Regions from separate parts of the Homo sapiens genome. Here region 1 is linked to region 2. A link means that fine-mapping ties the variant in region 2 to the expression of a gene that starts in the linked region. Tissue or cell type: whole blood. Region 2 holds a variant in brackets; the other region holds the start of a gene. All regions are shown on one strand. Distances are from middle to middle.

Region 1 (9,070 bases), 65 kb after region 2:
GAAGGCACACAGTGACTTGCTCACATTGCCAGGGCTGAACCTTGCACTGGAGCCCTCTGGTTGACAAGGCCAGCCGTCTAACCACTACACTGCAGGACGAGACCACTCAGATGTGGCTGCTTTGTCTGACTTCTATGTCCAAGTCCTTTCCACTTCCTCATATCCACAACACGCTGAGAGAGAAAATTAAAGTAGTCTTCCTAGATATTTGACTGTGTGATTCCAAATATTTTGGGGTTCACAGACCCCTTTGGGAATCTGACAAAAACTGTAAGTACCCACCTACACAAAAGCTTGTTTACAAGTTCACGGAGCTCAGAGCACCAGGAAACTCATCAGGAATCCACAGACTCAATGCTCAGAACCCACTTCATCTATTAAGCACAGAACCTCAAATGCCCTTATAGACACCACATGGCATTGTGCGTTTCACACATACACAAACTTTTCCTGCACTTGAACGACCTGAGCATGGGAGCCTCCTTACATTTTGCATCCCAGGTGTGTCTTGTTTGCCTCCCACTGGTCCAGGTTCAGCATCCTAGGTGCCAAAGTGTGCAAAAAGGCCAGCAGCTAGTTGTGATGAGAAGGAACGTGAGAAAACTTCCTTGATTACAATGTGGAAAGCACCAGCGCTTTGATGAAGGGGTTGCACAAGCCCCACAGTGGACAAGGAGGAGCCTCGTCTATGTCTTGGGCTCTGGACCCCCATTCCGTGGTTCTGTTCAGTTCTCATGTCTGTGCTTGAGAGTGGGTGCAACTGCTCCCACTTCACACTCCCAGCTGGCAGGTGCAGAGCCAGACTGACCTGGCTGGCAGGAAGCCCCAATGCTTTCATCTATACCACACTGTCTTACAGGAAGTGGAATGTGCCAGAGGCCTCAGATGCCTCTTCTCTTTCTTCCAAGGGTCCTGTCAAAACCCCAGCATGCTGATGGCACTGGGGTGCACCACGATTAGGGATGATCATTCAATTATCTTTGCTTTTCCTCTTTCAAGCTTTCATCCTCATGTCTTAACCTTGATTTTCATTTAAGGTTTTGCCCTTGTGTCTTTAACTCAAGAACCACTTTACCAGATACCCCTGGTGGGCCAGGCACTGCGCTGGGTGCTGGGACCTGGAGGCACATGTAGGGCATGTCCTTGTCCTCAGGAGCTTTGGTCCAGAGAACCTGGCAGGCCTGCAAACCAGAGCCCTGGGTGTGTGCTGGTGGTTGCTGGGGACACACAAATGGGCTTGGGCACTGTGACTGGGAGGAGACATTCGCACCTGCCCTGGACGTCAGAGCAAATGCAAGTTGCCTAGGTGGGAAGGTGGGGAAGGGATTCAGGCAAGCAGGAGCACGCCAGGGAACATTCCACAAATGGGAGGGCTGCTGTGGGGTAGCAGCAGGCTGGCAGTGGGGTAGCAGATGTGACAGGAAAGGCACTGCAGGCCCACATGTAATCACCAACTTTTAGCTGTGATTTTCCTGTAAGAGTTTTGTGATTGATTTCCATCTCAGTATGTTGAGATTTCCATCTACGTGCTGTCTTCCTGCGGCTTCATCATTTTTTCTTCCTCCTCACCTGCTTTGGAAGCTTTTCTCTAATCAGGCGCAGCATCACCTTTGAGTAGGGCTCACCCGCTCTGCTGGGCCTGCAAGAGGGGCCAGGTTTCTCTGTCTTGCTGTTACCTCTCTATACACGTGAACCCTGCAAGCCAGGATGCTGGCCACCGGTGGCCAGTCCCCAAGGCTGCAGACCCCAGGCTGCAGGTGGGCTCACAAGGTCAGAATCCTCACTCAAATGGGATCTGGCCCTTTGAGTCCCCTCTCTACATCCTAGAGGCCACAGTTTACTCTCGAGGAAGGGCTGTCGAGCCCAGCTCACAGCCACTTGGCTGACCAGATTCTGTGGGGTGGTTGAGCCCAGAGGACGGCAGATTCCTGGCTGGAATTCTGTACTCCCCCAGGGGCCTGGGTCCTCATTCTCTCCATTCCTGGCTTTCTGCTTCCTTCCTGGAGAGGAGTCAGGTCTGGGTAGCTGGGCCTGTGCTTGGGGTGCCAGGAGCCTGCACCAGTGCAGTGAGCTTCGCTGGGCAGATGAGAGTGTATTCCGTCCTGCAGCCCCTGCCACAGAGCAAAGGCTCAAAAATGCATGCTGGGCCAGTCACAGTGACTCATGCCTGCAATCCCAGCACTGTGGGAGGCCAAAGTGGGAGGATGGCTTGAAGCCAGGGGTTGGAGATCAGCCCAGGCAACAAAGCGAGACCCCATCTCTTCAAAAAATAAGATTAAAAAATTAGCCAGATACAGTGGCGTACCTGTGGTCCCAGCTACTCAGGAGGCTGAGTTGGGAGGATCGCTTGAGCCCAGGAGGTCAGTGCTGCAGTGAGCGATGATCTCTTGCCACTGCACTCCAGCCTGGGCAACAGAGCAAGACCCCATCTCTGAAAAACAAAAAACATAAACGAAAAACAACCCCCACAAAACCCATTGGACACCAACAACAACAATATAATCATCCATGAGAAATACTATGAAGAGAGGCAAATACAGAGCTATTCTGGAATCAGGTAGGGGTTGGGAGAGAGAATGATGGATGGTCAAAAATTCAAAAGGCCTGCTATATTCCAGAATGTTCAAAGAGAAGGTGTGATCACCAGGCCATGAACGCCAGTTTTCCCAAGAATGCTCAGGATTTGGCTACTCCTGCTCTGAGGAAGAATGAGTCTAATTTTTTTTAACTCTTTATTTTGCAGTAATTTTAGATTTGGAGAAAAATTACAAGGGATAGCACAGAGAATTTCCATATTTCCTTCACCAGGTTCTTCTAATGTGAACACCTTACGTAACCATGGTACATTTGCCAGAACTAAGCAGTAATTGTTACCACAATATTAGCGAGACCCCAGGTCTTGTTAAAATTTCACCTATTTTTCCACTAATGACCTTTGCGGTGTTGCTTTAGGATCCAATACAGGATGCGAATTCTGGGTTTGGGTGTCCTGACCATCATGTCTCCTCTGATCTGTGACGCTTTGCCTGTCTTTCTTTGTTTTTCATGACCTTGACATTTTTGAAGGTGAAATATGTTGTGGAATCTTCCCCAGTTTGGATTTGTCTGATGTTTTCTCATGATTTGACTGGGGTTATGAGTTGGTGGGAAGAACCGCACTGTCGTGGCAGTTCACAATAGCAGCCCAGCTTATTCCCGGTGATGCTAAGCTTGGTCCCTTGGTGAAGCTGGCATCTGCAGGTTTCTCCTCTACAGAGCTACTATTTCTCCCTTTCCATACTCTTAGTCCAAACCTCACTCAAGGTGAGGGGAATTAAGTCCCACTCTCCCGAGGGAGGAGGATATGCACATATCACAGCAATTTCTTCTGTTACTGCAAACGCACAATTCCTTAGTTCCTTGGTAATGTGGGTGGATGAGGGTGAACTTCATCCACCCGCATTACCAGATAAATGGAAACGTTGTCAAAACCTTACAATTTACACAAATCCTTTCAAAATATGTGATCAACTATGCTTTCCTTTTCACAGTTGGTGTTTCCTGGTGAAATAGATCTCTTAAACAAGAAGATCATCATTACATCTATTCAGTTACCCCATTCCTGAATGCCTGAAAAATGGAACAACTTCATTCAGAAACAAACAAATAAAACGAAAGCAACAGTCATTTGCCTTGAGCCAGATGCTCCCCGCCTGTGACCACTAACCTCTGTCAGCTCTGCACAGTCAATATCACCTCCTATCAAGAGGCCGAGTGACTCGCCGGGAGCGCAGCAGTGGCCTGTGTGTGCCCGCTCAACCCCCTCTCTACATCCCACGTCCCTTCTCTCCTCTGTGGCACATTCACTGCCTTTTCCAAAAAGCAGAATCTACCCTGGATGGATGACCTTTTATAAATTAAAAATTCTCAAAACTGGAAATGCACAAACCATGGAGCAATCTATTCATAGCTGAGGCAGCGATCCATTCATGCCTCTTCCTCCGTCTGTGGCACCCACAGCAATGTCCTTGCTTGCTTGCCCCACTACAGGCCTTACAGCACCATTTGCACAATTTAAAGGAAGACGATAAAGAACCCGGAAGACGCAGGGCCTCACCTTGGCAATGCTTCAGTGGTGTTTCACCATAGCTCTTCAGATCCTGACACCCTTACAGTGGAGCAGGCTCCTAGCGACAACGAGCAACTTCCAACACCATCCTAAAGCAAAAGCCAGTCCCAGATGAATTCTTCTCATCTCAATCAGTTTTCATGGCTTGTGGCTTTCTGCCGGCAGCAGACAGAGGTGGCAGCACCCCCGGTCTGCGATCAGAGCCTCCCCAGTCCCCAGTGAGCAAGTGCAACAGGGGCCCCGCCCTCCAGCCGAGCCCTTCTGAAGCTCCTGTGGGCTCCCTGGGTTTGGGGGTATCCCTCTGCTCCAGGAAAACTCGTGAGGAAGGACCATGAGCAGCTGCCCTGTCCCTGGCCCTGGGCAACGTGGGTCACAATGCCCTTCTGTCACCAGAAAGTTTTCTCCTGGGGTTTTGGTTTAACAGCACGGCTGGTATTTTTTCTGCACCAAGTCCGGCAGAGTTAGCAAACCTCCATGCTGACTCTACAAGGTAATTTGCCCTGCCGTGTGGACAAACGCTGCAGATCTCATGGAGAGGGCTTGGGCTCTGCCATGTGCCATCTGTGTGCACCAGGGCAGCCGTTCTTTCAGCCTCACTGGTTTTGCTTTGTCTTTAAATGATGCTAATAATAGCTAGCTCACAGGATACTATCAGCATTAAATGGTAGAATGGGTATGAATGGTGGGCATAGAATTGGTGTTTGGTAAAAGCTAATTTCCCATGTGTTTTACAGTACCCTAGCCAGTAGTTAGTTGACTTGGATCTCAGAGCCTCTTCAATGGTGGAAATTTGCTTGGCTATGAAAACTCAGAGGAGTAGAGAACAAGAATAATGGAGGTAACGGGAGAAGGATCCCAACATCTAGAGTGGTGAGTGGTGTCTGGAGTGGTGGGTGGCATCCTGTACACAGCAGTCAAAGGACCAATGGGACCAAGAAGGCTTCTGTGATGACGTCAGAGTCTTGCTGGTCCAGCCAGACACAGTGAGCCACTGGTCAGCTGGTTCCTTTCCACTAGTGTCTTGATATTGGCTTATAAGAGGAAGTCACTCGGTGGGCTCTCTCTTCTCCCTTCATAGTCTTGGATCCTTGAGAGTGGGTGTGGGAGGCAGACAGGGTAGCTTCTACCCCATGGTCCAGAATGTCAGCTTTCTCAAGGAGTTCATTTCCTTGGATTGGACTGAGACAATACTGAGCTATGAGTTGCAGGTTTGACAGGTGTTCATGTCAATAGACGCAGCAACGCAGAGTTCTGGGGTTTTAAGACACTATGGAAATAATCTGTTTCACTTCCCCAAGGGGTTTTGTGAGAATAAATGGATTCATGCATAAAAAGTATCTATTACAGTATTTAGCACATAATAAACTGCAAATACCTGGAAGCTGATGTGAATGTGGCTAATTGCTTTAAATCCCAAAGCTGATCTTCTCCACGTGGTAGCAGAGGGCTCACAACAATGTCCAGAACCCTGGGCCTGCTCAGTCCATGGCAGCTCCTGTTAATTTACTCTTACATTCACTTCCTGATACCTACTACATGGATCCAAACATGAAACATGAGTTCCAAACTCTGCGAGCTTCTGATTTAAAAAGTGACTGATTTGAGATGAGGTAACTTAGTCTTCCTATTTCAATTCAATTAATGCAGCACTGTTTTTCTGAACACCTGCTCTGTGCTAAGCACCTGCTGGAGGCTGGGGATACCAACGCAGCTACACTCCATCCTCCTCTGAGAGTCTCAGCCTAAGGAGCTTGGAGAAGGGGCCTGATAAGCAGATCACTGCAGTGGAGCGTAGTAGATGTAGCCACAGAGGCCTCAACGGGGCACAGTGCTAGACCAGAGGCGGAGGCAATAATTCTATCAGGGGTCACTGGGGGAAGCTGCCAAGGAGAAGGCTTTGAACATGATTCGTGACTAAGACTCCTACAGACTCTCAGAGACAGATCCCTAGGCTGAGTCTTTTACTGAACCAGGATGTTGTGACGCTGCCTGAACCGCCTCTAACATTTTTTCAATAGGGCCTAAATAGCTGACGTTTGGACAACTTTTATATACTTGGACTTGAGGGTATAGAGAATGTAGTGGAGAGCAGGAAACCCAGCATCCTACAAAGAAAATACATGGTCTGTCTACCCAAGGTTAGAGTGGGAGGGGATGTGAGAGTTTGCAGGGAGGTGTGCTGGCCCTTATGTGATCTGTGATAAGACATCACCTTTATGCCCACCCCAACAGACAGAGGTTGGAAAATAACAATACCAGACACACACACACACACACACACACACACACACACACACACACACACACGATTCCAGCAGCCACTCAGAAAGAAAACAAGGAAATGACTTTGCTCATGGGTTCCAGATGTCTGAGCAGAAGTGAAAGTTAATTTCAGCCATTTTCACCCTCACAGTCACGGGCCCATGAGAAAGGCGGAAGAGAGGTGGGGAAAGGACCCCGGGGAGAAGATGGGAACAGTGACACTTGTTAGGGGAGGCTGGGGAGCCTTTTGGTAGAAAACCTCAAAGCGGTTTTCTCAAGGCGGGACTGAGACTAGACCCTAGCTCTGAAACGCCCAGTTCAGCGTTCAGCATCACTGGTTCTGCCATTTATTTTTGTACATTTGAGGTGACTTATGCAAAATTCAGCTCTCCTTCCATGTGCCTTCACCAGCCTCCTAATATCAGTACATCTCTGATCAAAATCAAAAGCTGTAGGCAATAAAGTAAGTGGAAGAAACATAAAACCAATCCAGTCCAAGATTCACCTCAGAAGGGTCTAAGAAGTTGGCCAATTTCTTTTTGAAGAAAACAAGTATAAAACTAGACAAAATTGTCAGAAACAACAATTTCTGGGTACTAGAAAATGTTTGTTTCTGGGTACTAGAAAAACCAAAAGCAGACAATGATCTGATAAGTGTTTAATCTTAAAAATGGCCTGCATCAGAATGGCCATGAGTCTACGGACATCTTGCCTGAAGCTCCCCAGCCCCTGGCCTGAGTGAGGAAAAGCACAGGTTACCTAATGGGAATGGTGGACTTGGTTTGAGGGCTGTCACTGAAAACCAGTAGCTAGGCAGGGAGCGGTGGCTTAAGCCTGCAATCACAACACTTTGGGAGGCTGAGGGCGGGGCAGATCACTTGAGGTCAGGAGTTCGAGACCAGCCTGGACAACATGGTGAAACCCCATCTCTACTAAAAATACAAAAATTATTTCGGTGTGGTGGTGGGTACCTGTAGTCCTAGCTACTAGGGAGGCTGAGGCACAGGAATCGCTTGAACCCGGGAGGCAGAGGTTGCAGTGAGCTGAGATCGCACCACTGCAATCCAGCCTGGGTGACAGAGCGAGACTCCACCTCAAACATAAATTAAATAAATAAATAGATAAAAAGAAAACTAGTAGCTATACCAGCAGAAGTTGGTAGATTTGGTCTGGGATGGGGGAGATGAGAATCTGCATTTTATGGGTTAAAGTTCATGGAATCAGTTCTAGGGAGAAAATAAAAATCTGCAGCTTTACTGGCTTGAGATTATAGCTTCTTTTCATGGTAGACAGGAGATCAGCCAGAATTGTGATGAGAACTTGGAAGTAAGCAAGCCATGAGAGGGCTGGGACAATAAACTCCCTGCACATCTCTGACTAGGGAAGAAACCCAAAAAGGCAGCAAAAAGTGAGAGCCAAGGGAGACCTGACGATGTGCAAAAATTTTTTTGTTTAGTTTAAAATTTATTTGTTTTTATGTATTTAAGGGGTACAAGTGCATGTTTCTTACAATGCATATATTGCATAGTGGCGAAGTCTGGGTTTTTAGTGTGCCCATCACCTAAATGGTAAACATTGTACCCAATAGGTAGTTTTTTTTTTCCTTCTTTGAGACAGGGTCTCACTCTGTCCCCCAAGCTGGAGTGCCATAATGTAGTCACAGCTCATTACAGCCTTGACTTCCTGGGCTCAAGTGATCCTCTCATCTCAGCCTCCAAGTAGCTGGGACCACAGGCACATGCCACCACACCCAGCTAGTGTTTTGTATTTTTTGTAGAGACAGGGTTTTGCCACAAAAAGTACCTATCGGAACAAATAGGTACTTTTTCAACCCTCACCCCTGTCTCACCCTCCCACCTTCCGTGAGGACTTGTACATGTGAATGTGTTTCTTCGGCCACACACAGCTCTGGCAGCAGAAGATGGGAGGCTTAGTTGTTCAAGGTACCTGAGCATAACTTCTGTCTAAATAATTGTCTCATCATCATATAATACAAGAATAGAGGACACCTTTAGGGAGCCAGACTGAAAAACAAAGAAAAATATTATAATAAAAACTGCACTGTAGTATCAGTGGCTGCACACCATGGAGGAGATTAATTCTGCAATTTAAGTCCAGAAAAGTTACTAAAACAGAAAACCAACAACTTTTAGGAAAGTGAATGGAGTCTAGAATCACTGCAATGTCTAGTTTTCAACCAGAAATTACTAGACATACAATGAAACAGGAAAGTGTGACCAGAAAAACCAACACAGACAGTAGATTAAGACACAACTTCAAAGAAGTTGTTATAGCTATGCTCAAGGAATTAAGGAAAAATGTTCAAAGAATTAAAGAAAATTTTGTTAACAGTGAACCAATAGATACTTTGGATAGATAGATGAAAATTATAAAAAAGGAATCACATGGGATTTCTACAGCTGAAAATTACAAAAATTCACTACATGGGTTCAAGAGCGGATCTGAGACGGCAGAAGAAAGAAGCTGTACATTTGAAGATAGAGCAGAAGTTATGCAATCCAAAGAACAGAGAACGAAAAGTTAAGTAAACAGAGCCTTAGAGACCTGCCAGACAATATAAAGTGTTCAAACACAAATGTAATAGGAGTCCCAAAAGGAGAGGAAAGAGAAAGAGGCACAGAACAATTATTTTTTTAAAAAGTTGAAAAGTCTCCATGTGAGTAAATACCATTAACTTAC
Region 2 (10,863 bases):
CACGGGGGCCTTACTTGATGACAGTCGCTTACCAGTCCTGAACACCTTACTGGGGCTTAGTACTCCGGATGACCGTGCGAGGTCACTGTTACAGCCCTCTACAAATGAAGCGGCACAGAGAGGCCGCGTAACTCGCCCGGGGGTGCAGTCGGTGAAGGAGTCCGTCCGGGGACCCCCTGCGAAGCTGCCTCTGCCCACTGGATTCCGGGTCTGAGAAAAGGGCACAGGCGACACCCCGCCTTCGCGGCCCGTCTGGGATGGCACGGAAGTCGGGGTCGTCCGCGCAGAGGTGGGCACGGGGCGCAGGCGGGCGCGGCCGGCTAGGGCTGCAGCTCGTACTGCCGCTCGGTGGCCGTGTAGAAGTCCTCCAGCACCGACTGCAGGAACTCGAAGGTGGGCCGCTCCTCGGGCCGGCTGCGCCAGCACTCGGCGATGACGCCGCGGTACAGCTCGGGCGGGCAGGTGTCGGGGCGCGGCATGCGGTAGCCGCGCTCCAGGTTGCGGATGACCTCGGGGTTGCTCATCCCTGCGGCAGAGGAGACCGCAAGCGGGGGTGAGGGGCTGGGGTCCTCGGTGGGTGGGGGGCCCTGAGCGTCCCGCGGGGCACAGTGGGCCCAGGCAAGGGACAGCAGTGCCCACAGTCCCAGACCACTTCTCCAGCCTCGTGCGTTGCCTGGCTGCCCGGTCTCTAAACAGCCCTTTATTTACTTTTTATTGCCTGGGGAATGCCTAGAAATGAGGCTGTAGATTTTCTCCTGAGTACGGGGCAGGTCCTCTGAAGATGGGACCCTCCCTCTCTTGATTACCTGTGACCACCAGGGGCACAGCCAAGCCCATCACTCATGGGCAGCTGCCAGGTGCACACAGCAGCAGGTGACCCGGAGCCTGCCCACCTGTGGGGGCCAAGTGGCTGGAGCCCTTCGACTGGGGCTGGGGGCTGTCGTCCACGATTCTGGCCACACAGGAAGGGGCTTTGGGGAATCCACTATGGGTGCAAAGCCAAGGTAGGCACAACCTGTCCTCAACTGAGAACAAGCCACTGGGAGTAAACTTGAGTTCGGATGTGCCCTTTGTCTTGATTTCAGTTTGAGGGACTCATTTGACCTCTGCTGGAGGAAGGAGACACAGCCCTGTGGCCCAGAGCAATAGTGATGCAGGGGGCAGAGCTCCACCCCAGATGCCATGCCTGGGTCTCCGTCTTCGCTCTGGGACTCACTCTGAAAAGAACAGGGCAGCCACAGGCACCAAGCACAGGCGACCTGCCATCAGGGCCGGCCGGGAAAGCAGGGAGCCGCGAGCTGCGGGGTGAGCCACCTACCTGGGTATGGCACCCGCCCATAAGTGACAACTTCCATCAGGAGGACTCCAAACGACCACACGTCTGCTTTGATGGTGAAGACCCCGAAGTGGATGGCTTCCGGGGCTGTCCACTTGATGGGGAACTTGGCCCCTGTGGGAAAAGCCATGCAAGCTTTGGGAGGCCACGGCCGGTGGCCCCTACCCTCCATCCTCACCCCTACCCCTGCTCCTGCTGTCCTTCCATCAAGCCCCCACTGCGGGGCCTCACAGGGCGGGGCGGCCAGGCATGGCGGGGGAGCCACTACCGCACACCAGGACACATGACCAGGTGAGTGCAGACACGACATCAGCAGCACAGAAAGACGATATGGACACCAATACCACACAGTCACCCACTTTGGTTCTTTAAAAAGAGAGCGATGGCCTCAATGGGCAGCCACCACGTTTCCACCTGGGATGGAAGGGGCCTGTTTCACCTTACAGGGGCCTTGTTTAATTTAAAAGACATGGCCTGGGCAAGCCATTTAAACCTGCGGGCGCCTCCGTTAGTCCCTTCCTGCAAAATGGAAATGGTGACACTTGTACCTCCGAGGGCCGCTATGAGGAAGAACTCACATCCGGCTGCCCTGTGAAGCACCTCAATGGCTGCAGCCCCGGCCAGCATTTGGAGCAGACCTCAGGGCTTGGCACTTCACAGCCTCCCCTGGCCTCCATTTCTCGGTCTCCCCAGCCAGCCTGAAGTTCCCGAGAGAACAAGCCATATCCTGTCTGCTTGTCATCTGACTCATAGGCTCAGCAGACACTGCTTGCTAGCTTGATAAATATATGTGACCCCTTCAGATTCTCTTGTGACGTAGATTTCCACCTCAGTTATATGCACAGAGTAAAACAGTGCTCCGTGGACACCCTAATACAGGTTGGTTTGCTGATCGCACATGAGAGCTGTGTTTCCCACAGTGTGCTCTGTGAAAGCCTAATTCCATGGAAGGTTAATAGGGACTATATAAAAATAGTATTTGGGCATGGCTTACACCTGTCATCCCAGCGCTTTGGGAGGTCAAGGCAGGCAGATCACCTAAATTCAGGAGTTCGAGACCAGCCTGGCCAACATGGTGAAACCCCATCTCTACTAAACATACAAAAATTAGCCAGGTGTAGTGGCACACGCCTGTAATCCCAACTACTTGGGAGGCTGAGGCAGAAGAATTGCTTGAACCCAGGAGGCGGAGGTTGCAGTGAGCCAAGATTGTGCCACTGCACTCCAGCCTGGGTGACAGAGACTCCATCTCAAAAAAAAAAAAAATAGTATTTGGAGCTCAAATTAGTTTGGGAGGCACTAGGTGAGGCAAACATAAACTGTTTCTTTGCTGCAGGACTTCTCAGTGCCTTTAATATGTTGATGTGCACTGGGAATCTCCAAGACAGGGAGTAGGGTGGACTGCTGTTTCTCCAAACCTACCTTATCCTAAAGCTGTTCCTCCATGGGAGGTCTCAGGGCACTACCATTCTGCTGAACACATTTGGGTAAATGAAGGAAATGCTGATCTAGAGCTGTAGAAACCGTATAGCCCTCAGGTGTCTTCCCTCAGGGCTGTGCTGGGAGAAGTTAAAGGCGGCTTTGAGGAGCTGGGAAAGATAAGGCCCTAGGTTTCCCTTGTGGTTAGGGGCTGTGCTTACCCTCTTGGGCCGTGTATTCACTGTCGATGATTCGAGCCAAGCCAAAATCAGCAATTTTGCAGCACAAGGCCTCAGACACCAGGATGTTGGCCGCCCGCAGGTCGCGGTGGATGGAATTCATGCGCTCAATGTATGCCATCCCTTCAGCAATCTGAGGGAACAGGCACATGGTGAAGGACAGCCTGGGGGCCTCCACGCCAAGACCGAGCCCACACTGTGTCCCCCGCACAGCCCCTGTGGGCTGCTGGGGAAGGAGCTGTTTCTTGGATGGAGTAGAAAGGTGACTGTGTTGCTCCTCAGCCGAATAAACTCCTCTCCTAGAAGCCCAGAACAGCAACGCAGCAACGTGGGCATCAGAGACACAGGGGCTACCTGTGCCCCTCCCCCTCCTCGTTCTCGCTCCACACAGCTGTGTCCAAGGGTCTGCAGAGATGGAAGATAGAAGAACACAGGCAGGAGAAAAGGAGAGGGAGGGAGAAGAGAAGAAATGGTAAGGAAGGAGGGGGAGGGGGAGCAGGAGGCAAGGACAGGCAGCTCTCACTGGCTGGCTGGAAGCACAGCTCCTGGAGCTGGAGGCCCTCGGGAAGTCGCTGACCTCTAGCAAGCTGCTTAACCTCCCCGAGGGGCCACAGTCCTGACATGGAACATGAGGGATGTGGTCTCCAGGGCAGGGGGTTGAGGCAAGCATTAGACGAGGTTGATTTGTGACCAAGAACCTCACCCAGCGCCTGCCCCGTGGGGGCACCCAGGGAGCACTGGCAGATCCAGGTGGACAGAGGCTGTGAAGAAGAAGAGACTTGTCTCTCCTCCCCTGATCACCAGCCTGGGCCAGGGATAGCAGCTGGTGCTACTTGGCACCTTTTAGCTGAGGAAACTAAGGCTTTATTCACCCAATCAATGGACGAAGAAACTGAGGCAGAAAGCAGAGACCCCATTTACCTCTTCAGACATGCGACTTCAAGAAGCCAGCACTAGAATTGATTCCACTTCTCCTTATGCTTGCATTTTGTTGGTTTATCTATGAATCCATCCATCTATCCATGCATCCATCCATCCATGCATCCATCCATCCACCCACCCATCCATCCATCAACACATCCATGCATCCATCCATGTATCCATCCATCCATCCATCTATGCATCCTTCCATGTATCCATCCATCCATGGATCCATCCATCCATCCACCCACCCACCCACCCATCCATCCATCCACCCATTCATCCATCCATGCATGCATCCATCCATCCATCCATCCATCCATCCATCCATGCATCCATCCATCCACCCACCCACCCACCCACCCACCCACCCACGCATCCACCCATCCATGCATCCATCCATCCCCTTGCTACACCATGCAATCAATACTCATTTACTAATATGGGACTGTGGGGAATATAAAACTGAGTACTAAATATATCTGGGCAGCATCTAACAGTACTCGTTCTGATAACTAATATTTATTGAACAGTACCAGAAATATATTTTAAAAAATGTTGAGTAGGGCCCAGATCTGCTTTCAAGAAGAAGCTGCCCAGATCTGCTGAGCAAGAACAGTGCTTCCGGGAACACCTGAGCTAAGGGCTCTCTGGCAGTTTCTTGTCCAGGGAAACCTTCATAGAAATGACATTACGCTTGAGCCATGGATGATGATAAGGATTCTGCCAGGTGGGAAGTGTTCAAGGCTTCCTGGGCAGAGGAGGTAGAGGGGTGGCGAGGCATGGGGCATGGGAACCGGTGGCATCTGGCTGCAAAGTGGGGCCCGAGGGATTGTGATTGCAGGGTTCCTGTGGGGTTGGCCAGATCTGGCCTTGGAAGAAAGGTCTGGCGAGACTTTGCATGGCTTCCTATGGAGTAAGAAAAGAAGAGCCCAGAAGGGCCGGGTGTGTGTCTGCTCATGTGTGTGTAAGTTTGCGTGTTTGTGTGTGTGTTTGTGTGTGTGAGTTTGTGAGTTTGTGTAAATGTGTTTGTGTGAGTTTGTGTTTGAGTCTGAGTCTGTGTATTTGTGTGTCTGTGTGAGTTTGTGTGTGTGAGTCTGTGTGTCTGTGTGTGTGTCTGTCTGTGTGTGAGTTTGCGTGTCTGTGTGAGTCTGTGTATGTGTTTGTGTTTGTCCGTGTGTGTGTGAGTCTGTGTTTTTATGTGTGTGAGAGTGTGTGTGTGTACATGTGTGCTTAGAGAGCCATTGGCATGGTCAGCATGTGGTTAGAGGCTGCCCTTCTGGGAAGTTCTGATTTTCTGGCTCCTCACCCCCGATTCTGTGGCTACATCCAGGTATTAAACTCCGATGGCTTTTCACATCCTTTGCCCCTGGGTCACACGAGATTTCCCAAGGGGGTGTAGTGGGGATTGAATAGGAGACAGCGGAGGGTGAGAGAAGGAAGGGGAAAGGAAGCAGCAGCAGTGGGCAGGCTTATCACTGCCCTGGGGTTTGAAGCCGGTTACCAGCACTCATTTTCCAAAACCAGCCTGCCCAGATGGCTGTCTGCCCACCTCAGCGGAAAAAGGCGTTGTGGCATCAGTTCCTGCAGCGGCGCTACTGGGTAAGGCTGGGCGAGGGGCGAGGTGGGAGGGCTGATGTGGGCGGTGGGTGGGAGCGTTTCCTCTCGGTGGCAGCTGTATGTGTGTGTGTATGTGTACGCACGTGTGTGCCTCACAGGCTGACCACAGACCAAAACTTTTCTGCTGAGAGTTCCAGTTTTAACAGGGCCACCAGATGTGCTTCCTGCCAGCTAGAGCTCTCGGCTAAAACCCTCCTCTCCACTCTGCTCTTCACCCCATGGAGTCCAGAAAGTTCTGCATGTGAACGTGAGGGACACTGAGGACCAGTCCTGGGTAGCCAAGGAGGTCCAGCACTCGCAATTCCCTGGTGGCAGAAGGTGGGGCTGTCCTCCAGGGCTCAGAGAAGTCATGTCCCTGGCATCTGTGTGTAGCTCAGGCCTGCCCATCAGCCTGGGGTCGACGCCAGGGCTGTGCAAAGGCTGAGGGCCCCTGGGATGGGAAGTCCTACAGGAGATGTTTGTGGGCACCATCTAAGGAAGAGATGAGGTCACAACAGAACACACTTGCCTGCCGGGTTCAATGGAACTCTTGCTAACTCTGTGTGTTTCCCATGACATTCATTCGCCCTCTCTTCCTTCGGAACAGAATAGCCTCATTCCAACACAGCAGCCCGGGTCTAAGGCTCCATTCCCTGGGCTCCCTCACAGCTGCGTGGGGCAGGAGGCACAGTGGCCAGGGTTTGCAAGTCCAAGTGCAGTGGGTGACCTTGGGGATATCTGCCTAGAGGAAGGTGGCCTTCAGTACCCCCTGACTTCTCCTGCTGGCTGAGAGGATGGGGTGGTAAGGCACGAGCAGCCATTGTGGGCAGCAGGTGGCACATGCCGCCCTTTCTCTGCACCTGGTACTTCACCAACCTGCGCCGACATGTCAATCAGCCTTGGGAGTGACAATCTGCTCCCTTCATCTGTCTTCAGGAAATCCAGCAGGCATCCTAAGAAAAGAGAAGTTGCAAGTGCCCTTCTGCAAAGTGACCCGCCCCTGGTGGTGCCAGCCTCTCTCTGGTGTGAGTGGCTCCCCATGGGCGCGGGAAGTGGGAGTTTGCACCCTCAGATCTCTCGGTGCATCAGGAAGGATCTACCTACTGCTGCCGAGTGCCTTCCACTTTACAAAATGCCAGTCTCAGCACCCCGGGAGGCAGCCAATATACCAGCAGTTGCCCAGAAGTTAGGTTTCAGCCAGGTGCAGGGACCTGTCTGAAGTCACCCAGCCGGGAGCTG[G/C]GAGTGGGACCCCAGTTCTGACTCGAAGTTTCATGCCCCTTCTTGTCTTTCCCCCCGTGTTGGCCTCGCTCCCTTGATCCCTGCTGGCAGACACCCTCTGCCTCTGAGGACCAGGCATCAGCAAGAAAGCACCAGAATGGAGAGAACTGTCCCCCAGGTTTGGTGCAGGGGACAAATGCAGCTCCCCCTGGAATCAGAAAGCTGGGAGGGATGGATGCTTGCCCTAGGGGCAGGCTAGAGGCACCCCCAGCACAGCCTCCGACCGGGGGCCCCTTGGTGACAGTTGTTAGGGAGCTATATCAACATGGGCATGTTAGGATCCTATAGGAGCAGTGTGCGGTCAGGGTCATAGGAGGGTGAGAAAGTGGCATGAGAACTTGGCCACGCCGTGGACCTCAGAGGCCATCAAGCCCAACCTCTCTGGCCATCCTTGTAAAATATTCACACAGTTGTAAATGGTTGCATGACCAGGAGGCAGGAGACCTGGATCTAGTACTGTCCCTGCATGCCTGGCCTGGTGTTCGTCTGACTTTGCAATGCTCTGTCCCTCCCAGCAGGCATCAAAGAGTGCTAGGCACAGAAGATGCACTCCAGAAATGCTGTCTGAACTGCTCCTGGGCTGAGAACATGGCTCTGTCAGAACCACTTCACCCTCCTGTTTCTCACCCTCCCTCTGTCCCTCCCCCTCCCTCCATCCCTCCCTGTCCCCACACCGTGCCATGCCCTAGATCTGCAGGACCCCCTGGCCTGGTGAACCCACCGCAGCGGACCCTCCTCCTCCTGCTAAGCCCGGCCCTCCCGCCTCGCTCTGAGGATGCGGCTCTGCGGGGGGCACCACCTCTGGCCATGTACTCGGTGACAATGTAGATGGGCTCCTTGGTGACCACTGCGTAGAGTCGGACCAGCCGCTCGTGCTGCAGAGCCTTCATCACGTTGGCCTCACCCAGAAAGGCTTCTGGAGACATGGTTCCCTCCTTCAGCGTCTTAATGGCCACCTTCATGTTGTTTTTGTAGTAACCTGAGCCCGGGGGAGTGAAGAAGCCAATCAGAAGACAGAGAGCTTGCTCGGAGGTGATCCCTTAACCAAAATCGGGGTAAGTGCCCAGGTGCCACCCCATTCCAGGTGCCAGAGCTGGAACATGCAGTTCCGGAGGCCATGGTTGTGTGGTGCCTACCTTGCGTTCCAGGTCCCTTCTATATGGGGCCTCAGGCAGTGGAGGAATGTACCCTGCCTGGGGGGCATTTCACCTATTTGCCCCACACCCTGGGCCTGTGTCCTTCTGTCCTGCACGGAACCTGTGTCCTTCCCCCACCCCTCCCCTACATAATGAGTCTCTTCTATCACACAATAACTCCTTGGTGGAAATAAGCACACAGCCTGGGGTACACTGGGCAGGAGGATGACGCATGGGGGTCTCCTTCCCTCCTTCTGAAGCCCCATGGCGATCCTGTCCCACTCCTTAAACTATCTGTATCTCCACACTCTCCCTGTACTCCATGAAGTCCCCTGAAGGGCAAAAGACAACTCTACTTGCTTTTCTAGAGGACATGGGCCTTGGCAGGGACCTGGGTACAGCTCCTGCCAAAAGCACCGTGGGCATCAGCCCCAGGTAAGGGAGCACTCATGGACCAGCCCCAGGTAAGGGAGGACTCATGGACCAATCCAGGGATAAAACGGAACACGAGTTTTATATCCTGGTGGGCGGGGGGGGGAAGGGGGCAGGTGTCAGCAGCGATGGAAATGTGAGGACACCAGGCCTGGAGCTTCAGTGACTTGGCCAAAGTCCCACGGCTGCCCTCGGTGTGCACTCAGGCTCTGGAACATCATGGCTCATCACGTTTAACCTCCTGTTTCCATCTGGGTGATGAAAAGCTAAGGGGAGTTAACGCGCCGCTGCAGCTCATTGTCAAAGCCAGCTTCAGGCAGAGAACGAAGGAGGGAGCGACTTCGGGGCTGGGTGAGCTGGATTCTGTTCCTGCTCTGCCACCACCATAAGCGGTCCCAGCTGTTACAACGCGGCTCTGCACCTCCACTTCCTCCTCTGTAAAATGAGTGTCCTCGCCTCTGTCCTCGCTCCCTCTCAAGACTTCTGGGGGAGGGATGACACGCTATGAAAATGCTGAACCTGGACTCAGGATGCGGCGCAGGTGGAATGGGGGGAGAAATGCTCCCACGTGTGCACACACTCACCCATCCAGACTTCGCCGAATTGTCCAGACCCGAGTTTCCTGACCAGCCTGAGAGACTGCCGGGGGATCTCCCATTCATCCTGGGCCCAGGGATTCTGCGGGGCCGGGCGCACACAGGGCAGGGTCAGCCTCTGGCATAGACCATCCCCCTTCTCTGCATTAGGGAAGAAAAGACAGGGCTGGGGGTTACCAGAGCAGCCAGGCTCTACCTTGGGAGCTGTATCATTCCTAGCTGGCCCTCCACTCCCCAGCCACCCCACCCCCTGCATGGGTGTGTGCACACGCCTGCACATGCACACACACTCAACTCTTTCTCTTCGTTTGCGCAAAGCAGGGCATGCTATCTCTAAAATCGACCTGCTCACTCTAAGACTGAAAATGCTTGCTACTCTCTAAGGGGTTCCCTGCTGAGCCAGGAGAGGGAATTAGGGCCACCAATTCCCGGTGCTCAGAGTTGCTACCTCCTTAGGCCTAACTTTGGGATAATCTTTCCATCCCCCAAGGTGGCACCAATGACTCACACAATTGGGAATCTTAGCGAGAGATCCAGGGGCTCTTGGCACAAGTCCCTGCCCCCATTGCACGCCCCCTCTTACTAGAATAGTGCTGCACCAGGGCCTGGAGCGAGGGGAAGGTGATCCGGGGGGAGATGTAGTAGCCCCCTTCATCCAGGCAGCGGATCTTATAGTGCTTGATCAGCTCCCCCTGGGTGGTGACATCCTTCACAGACAGGGAGAAGGCACCTGGAGGGTTCATGAAGACACACACGAGAAGTAAGGCACAAAGACAAAAAACGGGACTGGGATTTGGGCCTCATTTTAAAGCTTTGAAAAAAGTTCCCCAATTCTGTTCTTCATTATCAGCACTCCCTCCACAAGTTTCCTTTCCCTGCATCTCAACCTCCATGCTTTTGGAAGCCTCCCCTGTAAGTTCCATCTGACTCTGACCTTGGCATCCCCCCACTATCCTGCAAAACTCAGCCAGGGAATCACAGAGCCCTGCGGCAGGCAGCACAGTTTCTCAGCAATCATGTAGGTCCCCACTTGGGCATCTGGTCACTCGGGGACCCTTTGTCATGGACTATTGAGAAATCTAGTCTCGTTGGAGTGACTAGGGGCTTTATTTTCTGGCTAAAGAGGGTATCTCTTACTCCTACAAGCAGATAGCCATTCACAGCTGCAAGTACCCATGTCCATGGCGGACACCGTAATAAGCTATGCCCAGGGGCTCTGTTCAAAGTCATTTGCTGCCTGTTACATACACCTGTTATTTTGTCTTCTAGGTTAATGTTTTCCCGCAGGCAAGTGGTAGCAGATGTCAAGGGTTAAGGACAATTTAGGAGGTAAGAATTTCCAGGTAAGAAACGCTTTTCCATGAACTTGATGTTTTTATAAAATGCGTCTGTCCAGCTACTTGGGTACCATGACCTTACCCCGCCCCTTACCCATTATTTGGGAGATGAGGACGCTGGGGCCCAGCAGAGTTCGCGGCAGGCTGGGGGGCTCCCGGTTCCCCGAGTCCGCGCCTACCTCGAGCAGTACCACGCCTCCCCGCCAGGGGTCAGGCACGGACCCCTCGTTCTCGTTGTGGACGCTTGGTTTTCCGCGGTCCTGTTTGACTTAAGGCTCTTTCCTCTCCTGTCAGTTCCCCTGCCTCAACCCCCTTCCATCCTCCAGTTTCCCTCAGCCAATGTGCCTCTCTCATCACCTACTTGCAAAAGGACACCCAGAGGCGTACGCCATGCTGTTGCCACAGCCCCTCCACACCCCCACCCCAGCCTCAGCCCAGAGGCTGCAAACTGTCTCCCCGACCCTGCCCGGGTGCAGCTGTGCCCCCAGTCTCTAAGGAACCCGAGCCTGGCCTTAGGGAGTTCATTCATCAAGGGCTTTTCTCTCCATTTTGTAGGCTGCACTTGTGTCG

Evidence for each region. PIP is the estimated chance that this variant, and not a neighbour inherited with it, causes the effect.
Region 1: it holds the start of BLK, and the variant in region 2 is fine-mapped to the expression of BLK in whole blood (TOPMed, PIP 0.95).

Annotation. Positions count from the first base shown.
Region 1 is chr8:11,489,618-11,498,687 of GRCh38, reverse strand. BLK (BLK proto-oncogene, Src family tyrosine kinase) reads right to left here and starts at 4,301. Exons shown (of 13, transcript NM_001715.3): 1 at 4,097-4,301. RefSeq lists enhancers at 3,990-4,079, 4,090-4,279, 3,169-4,368, 6,370-6,519 and cis regulatory regions at 3,988-5,608, 5,682-6,942.
Region 2 is chr8:11,553,566-11,564,428 of GRCh38, reverse strand. It overlaps BLK (BLK proto-oncogene, Src family tyrosine kinase), which reads right to left. Exons shown (of 13, transcript NM_001715.3): 7 at 9,540-9,686; 8 at 8,945-9,097; 9 at 7,592-7,771; 10 at 6,391-6,467; 11 at 2,977-3,127; 12 at 1,319-1,450; 13 at 1-526. The coding sequence ends at 321. It overlaps BLK-AS1 (BLK antisense RNA 1), which reads left to right and starts at 6,164. Exons shown (of 5, transcript XR_948956.3): 1 at 6,164-6,539; 2 at 7,768-8,363; 3 at 8,567-8,711; 4 at 10,226-10,285; 5 at 10,849-10,863. RefSeq lists enhancers at 1,009-1,058, 5,705-5,994. The variant G/C (reference allele first, on the strand shown) is at 6,754.